Linked DNA regions of Homo sapiens. The protein of the gene in region 2 interacts with the protein of the main gene of each other region in a pairwise test. Each region holds a gene or a part of one and is shown on either strand. Other genes may lie near its edges.

The links.
Region 1: the proteins of RIPK4 (region 2) and PREPL interact in a two-hybrid assay, tested with the Homo sapiens proteins (one large-scale study listed by BioGRID).

What each region holds. Positions count from the first base shown.
Region 1 is NC_000002.12:44,351,495-44,354,994, forward strand, and holds part of PREPL (prolyl endopeptidase-like), read right to left. Parts: intron 1-3,500. UniProt on the Homo sapiens protein: Serine peptidase whose precise substrate specificity remains unclear. Does not cleave peptides after a arginine or lysine residue. Regulates trans-Golgi network morphology and sorting by regulating the membrane binding of the AP-1 complex.
Region 2 is NC_000021.9:41,753,553-41,757,052, forward strand, and holds part of RIPK4 (receptor-interacting serine/threonine-protein kinase 4), read right to left. Parts: intron 3,265-3,500; coding exon 2,973-3,264; intron 1-2,972.

The DNA.
Region 1 (3,500 bases), on a different chromosome or scaffold from region 2:
CATATATCCCTCGCCCTATTAAAAAAAAAAAAAACAAAACCCTGTTCTCCAGGCAATCTTTCCAATTTACATAAATGACAAATCTGTCCTCCCAGCTACTCAGGCTTAAAAACATTACAGTTGGATTTGTCTTTTTCTCTTGCCACAAACAACTGGTCTGCTAAATCCTCTCAATTCTACTTTCAACATATATTTAGAATCTGACCACTTCTCACACTTGGACTGGACTACTTGGCTAGTATCATCATCATTTCTCCCTTGGATTACTGCAAAAGCCCAAAAGCTTTCTCTGCTTCTGCGCTTGCCTCCTGGTCTATTTTCAACAAAGGAGCTTGTGTGAGTCTGAAGTCAGATTATGTTACTCCACTCAAAACCCTCCAGTGGTTTCCCATCTTGCTCAAGAGGAAAAGCAAAAATTCTTACAATGGTCTACAAAGTCCTAAAGAATCTTGTCCCATTACATTGCTGACCTAATCTACTGCTACACGCCAAGCCCACTTATTCCAGTTAATCCATACTTGATGTTTCTTGAACATATCAAGCTTGCTCCCATATCAGTTTCTTAGAACTTGGGCCCTATGCCCAAATACCTCCTTAAAGCTATTGCTCAAATGTCATCTTCTAAGTTAGGCCTTTCCTAACCATTTTACTAAAATAACACCCCTCCCTATCCCCACACTGCCTATTCACATCTTCCCCGTCTTTTTTTTCTTTTCTTCTTCGCCATAACTATCGCTTTTGACCCACTTTGTATTTCATTCATGTAATTCTTTTTATTTTTTTGAGAGATGAGGACTTGCTTGTGTCCACCTCAGCTGGAGTGCAGTGGCATGATCTCGGCTCATTGCAACCTCTGCCTCCTGGGCTCAAGCAATTGATCCTTGATCTCAGCTCTCAAGTAGCTGAGACTACAGGCGCCACCATGCCCAGCTAATTTTTGCATTGTTTGTAGAGACAGGGTTTTGCCATGTTGCCCAGGCTGTTCTTGAACTTCTGGGCTCAAGCAATGAGCCCACCTCAGCCTCCCAAAGTATATTACAGGCATGACCCATTGCACCTAGCCTTGTTCATGTAATTCTTTATTCTTTCTCTTTTCCTTTCTCAAGTAGGATGGTAAGCTTCACAAAGGCAGGGATTTTTGTTTATTTTGTTCAGTGTTATATCTCCAGTGCCTAGAATGGTGCATAGCAGGTGTTCAACAAATATTTGCTGAGTTGAATAAAATTCAGACAGCATAAAACATAAAATGAAAAAAACATATTTAACAAAAGATATCACAAAGTGAAAAAAATAATAATAGAACAAATATGGAGAAGATATCTACAGCACATATAAAAGACAAAGGACACGTAAAGAAATCTTATGAATCAGTAAGAAAAGGACAGACAATTAAAAGAAGGTCAAAAGACAAGAATAGGCATTCAAGAAGAAAAACTATAGGATCAATAAGTGTAAGAAAAGATGCTCACTGGCCATGAGTGGCAGCTCATGCCTGTAATCCCAGCACTTTGGGAAGCTGAGACAGGAGGATTGCTTGAGCCCAAGAGCTTCAGACCAGCCTGGGCAACATAGCAAGACTCTGTCTCTATTTAAAAAAGTTTTGGATTTTGGAGCATTTCAGATTTTGTATTAGGGATGGTCTACCTGTACTACAAGATATTAAAAAAGAAAGGTACTGTGAATGAGGCTAACTTAGGTCTACTTCTGACTCTACTAGTTTTCTTACTTAACTTTAGGCTCTGTGGCTTTAGTTTCTTCATTTGTTTAGAAAGAATACACACGCTTCCTGATTTTAAGACTTATTACAGGCCAGGCGCAGTGGCTCATGCCTGTAATCCCAGCACTTTGGGAGGCCAAGTTGGGCAGATCACCCTGAGGTCAGGAGTTTGAGACCAGCCTGGCCAACATGGTGAAACCCTGTCTCTACTAAAAATAAAAAAAAAATTAGCTGGGCATGGTGGCAGGCACCTGTAATCCCAGCTACTCGGGGGGCCTTGGCAGGAGAATTGTTTGAATCTGGGAGGCAGAGGTTGCAGTGAGCTGAGATGGCACCACTGCACTCCAACCTGGGCGACAGAGCGAGACTCCATCTCAAAAAATAAATAAATAAATAAATAAAACTTATTACAAAGCTATAGTAATTAAATGTGTAGTACTGGCATAACGACAGACATATACAAAAATGAGATGAAAGTGAGAGTCAAGAATAAACCATTGAATTTATGGTCAGTTGATTTTCAGAAAGGACACCAAGACAATTCAATGGAAAAAGAACACTCTTTTCAACAAATGTTGCTCAGACAATGGATATCCACAAGCAAAATAATAAAGTTGTACCCCAATCCCTTGCACTATAAACAAAATGAACTCAAAATGGGTCATAGGGCTGGGCATGGTGGGTCACACATGTAATGCCAGCACTCTGGGAGGCTGAGGCAGGAGGATTACTTGAGCTTAGGAGTTTGAGACAAGCCCGCACAACAAAGTGAGACCCTGTCTCCACACACACAAAAAATCAAAAAATTAGCTGGGCATAGTTGTGGGCCCAGCTACTTGCAAGGTAAGGCAGGAAGACAGCACGAGCCCAGGAGGTTGAGGCTGCAGTAAGCCATGTTTGTGCCTCTGCACTCCAGCCTGAGCAACAGAGTGAGGCCCTCTCTCAACAACAACAACAACAAAAAAAGTATCAAAGACCTAAAGAAAGAGCTCAGATGGGATGATTTCTGGGGTATGTTTTCTAGCAATAAAATTTATGGTTATATGAAAAGAAAAAATGCATTAATTTAACTATTAATTCATTCTATAAACACGTTGCTTATCTACAATGTGGCAGTCGTTATGCTATGTGCTGGCAAGATGTGTATTATAAAATTCTTGTCTTTAAGGACCTCCCAATATAATGGGGAGACAGGAAAAGTTTAAAATGATGTAGTAATAGCAGAGAGGTAAATATAGTGATTTGACTCCTATGGCTTCAACTACTATCTACATGTAACAACTCTCCCCAAATTCCAGACTCATATATCCAACTGCTACTGAAATCTCCACTTTACTAGTGAGTTATATTTATCCTTTCCTCCTCTCTTTTTTTTTTTTGAGATGGAGCCTCGCTCCCATCACACCAGGCTGGAGTGCAGTGGCACGATCTCAGATCACTGCAATCTCCACCTCCCGGGTTCAAGTGATTCTCCTTCCTCAGCGTCCCGAGTAGCTGGGATTACAGGCATGCGCCACCAGGCCCGGCTAAAATTTTTGGATTTTCAGTAGCAATGGGGTTCTGCCATGTTGGTCAGGCTGGTCTTGAACTTCTGACCTCAGGCAATCCACCCGCCTCAGCCTCCCAAAGTGCTAGGATTATAGGCGTGAGGCGCCACGCCCGGCCTTCTTCACCCTTAAGATCTGAATATCAGTAAGATTACATACATGACTGTGAAATAAGTCCATCTGAAACATAAAGATAAACCAGGTACGTTTTAGAATTTTGAGATTTTGGAATGTTA
Region 2 (3,500 bases):
ATCTTCCCACCCAAGCTGCCCCTCACCCCGTGTCCTCAACAGCGAGCTACTGTGGCATCCACTCTGACCAGCAAATGCTTCAAGAGTTACAAACACTCTCATCAGCACCCGACTCTGCATCTCCAAGAGCTGAGGGCTCACAGCTGCCCCCAAGCACATGGCCCTTCAACTTCAAGGTCCAGCTGTCAAGACTAAGAAAGCAGCCTGCCGGGGTTTTGCTGCCTCTAAAAGAAAGACACAGCAGAACGTGACCCGCGTGTGACCCTTTGAAAAGCGTCTGTTTTGGGCTAACTGGACATATAAATGCAGCCTGAGATTTTAAACCAAGTTATTTCATTTTTAAGTTGAAATTGATTCCAACTAGTATCTTAATATTGGTATTTAGTATATGTAATGTTGAATAATATCAAGCATTAATTTGATACTATTACTTTGTATACTATTTACATTTAACTGCTTCATGAAGTAGACAGTTGCTGTGATATTTCCAGTTTGAATCGAGCCCTGAGCACTGAGGGAGCCCATCTCAGAGGCGAATGGCAGCACTGGAATGGCAACTTAGGATCTAATTGCAGGATTCTGGATTACAGTTTTCCTGCATTGAATAACTGTCTACTGAGGACTGCCCAGAAGCCCAGTGGTCAGTCCATGCAAAGCTTCCACACTTCGTCTTCAGGAACAAAGGCGCTGACTCTCAGAACCCCGACACACACTCCCTGCTGCACTCTACGCACACCAGTAGCTATTTCACAGAAAAAATAAGTATGTCACGTAAAGGTATTTTTCGGTTTGTTTTTGGGCTTCTTGATGGTGACTAACATGCCTGATTAAGAAGGACGCCACACAAAAGCAATCTTTCCTGCGGCCTGTCAGGGTACACAGGGCCCTAAGATGTCCCAGGGGCACCACACAGAGATGTCCTGTCACTTCCTGGCCAGCACCCAGCGTGCCTTCGACAGCAGCCTCCCTGAGAAAGCAGTTCCAGGCAGCATCCGCCCCCTGCAGCTGTCCTGAAAGACAGGGAAGCCCTGCTGCCTGCTGCCCCTGCAGGAAGGCCCAGAGCTCTCTGCGTCTCTTGGGCTGTTTCCTTCACCTAAAGGCTCTGCTGCTGCCTGCCCCGACTCCTGAGGGCAGAAAAGCCCCACCCTGTGTGAAGGCCCAGCCCCAGGAGCACTCCCACCCCCTCCCACAGGGCCGCCTCTAGGCCCAGCCTGCGGGCCACACACCCTGCCCCCAAGTGACTGCTACGTGCAGTGGTCATTTGGTTTCTTTCATGTCAAGCACAGTGGCAGGCCAGGTGGAAATCAAGGTCTCTGCTCCGTGACTTACAGCTGGACGATCCTGGCTGCTAATTTACTCACTCTAAGCAGAGACTCAGCGAGAACCAGAGGCCACCGTCCACTCTGCACCTCTGCTCTGAGGATGAGGGCAGCTCCCGCAGGTGAAGCCTCTAGCATGTCCTTTCCGGTATTCAGTGCACGTTGGACGGCAGAGCTTACTAGTCATTAGGGCCCCAGAGCCTGTGCTACCTAGAAACAAGCCCGTAAATGTTGGCGGGAATGGGGGGTCCGCATGTGAGGCCCAGCCCTGCCCATCACAGGAAACGGGAATCCCAGGGGTCCCAGAACATAAGCAGATGCGGGAAACCACCAGAGAGCCCGTTCAAGCCAAGTCATTTGATTTTTGTCTCCATTATCTCAATTTCCTACTTCACTTCGCAGGACGGTGCTTCATCTTCTAGCTGAAATCTTATTACTGCGCAACACCTACCTAAGAGACAACTTATAATTACTGCCCGAAGTGAAAAATTGACCTCCTCACCACCGCCCTGGCTGAGCAAGGCACGCGAGATGCACTCGTCCGCAGAGTCTGGGCACAGGGAGCGGCCGTGCGCATGCCATACGAGCCACCGCTCCCGTCCCACCCAAGAGCTCAGGGGCAGGGCCGGGCCCTGAATTCAGGTCTCTCCTAATTAATGGTCAGGCCATCAGAGAGGCCTGGAAGTGCTGTGCCACCAGGAACAGTAGCACAGCCAAGCCAGGCAGGGGACTCCTCTGCTTGTCCCCTGCATGAACTACATGGATCCGGACCATGGCTCTCGGCTCCTTCTCACTCCCAGGGCAGACACCAGTGTCATGTGGACCAGCCTATCACCCTGGGCCTCCCAAGAGCATGTGAACATCACCACGTGGGGAAAAACTACAACGCGCCAGGTGTAACCACCACATGTCAACGACAGTACAACCCTAGCCACGAAGGCCATCAAAGGAGATACAAGGAAATACAGCCCTGATGCAAAGGTGATGATGCTAACACCTGCCAAGGCCCAGAGGCAACACTGGTTTTCAGTTACATTATCTCTCTTACTTTTCTGTGTTTCAAAAACCTATCAGCGAAGCAAAAGCAAGCTCCATCTCCCAGGCGTTGCACTAACGCAACACGCTGCCACTCCGCACTCTACGCAGGGGCAGACAGAGGCAACGAGCCCCTCCTCACAAGCCTCTTTCCACAGCACTTTGAGGACCCCACTGCAGAGGACCCCCACATTCCCACCACCCCGAGCTCCTGAAAACACTGAGGGAAATGCGTCCCTTTGTTGCAGAGCCTAAGGTCTCGCAAGGACACACCTGGCCCACGGGCTGAATTCTAACCTGATTTCATAAGACCAAAACCCACAAACCCGTAATCTTTTTCCGGAATGAGTCATATGCCAAGATTTGGGGGAACAGCCCCCATGTTCACCAAGCTACCCTCCAGCTACATGGCGTGTGGTTTTCATACCAACCAGGACAAGCTTAGGCTCCTGGAGTCCTCATGCTGCAAAAGGCCTCGGTTTCAAGCTCTTTCCTCCAAGAAGAACCACCTCCTCTTCTGCCCTTGTCCTGACCTCAGGGCTTGACCCCTTGATACCCTGCTCCCCAAGACACAGGCCCTCCCTGCCCAGCTCTCTCGGGCACCGTGCGGCCCCCCACCTTGACGTGGTAGTGGGCATCCAGCAGGATGTTCGCGGGCTTGAGGTCCAGGTGCAGGAGTGGCGGGGCCATGCAGTGCAGGAAGTTCATGCCCACCGCCGTCTCGTGGATGATTCGGAACCGGAGATCCCATGGCAATGGCTCCGAAGCCAGCAGCTTTTCCAGGGAGCCCGTCTCCATGTACTCCATGACCAGGCCGACAGGTTCGCGGCAGATGCCATACACAGGCAGGATGTAGCGAAACTTGGCCATCTCCATCTTCTTGGCTTCTTCCAAAAGCTCCATGCGCTCCCTGAAAAAGTTCAAAGGCATGAAGAATACGCAATGGTCACTCAGCCACAAACATGGAACAGCACCCTGGCCAGAAGACGACCAGCTCCAGAGGGCTGAGCAAATGCCTCAAGTGCACACACATGGGGCACACTTCAATGTCACATCACGAATGCAGGGCTTTCCAGAGTCTCAGTCCTGAGGCTGCTGAAATGTACCTATGCATCACAGGGTTATCACAAGTGAGGAGGAGGGAAA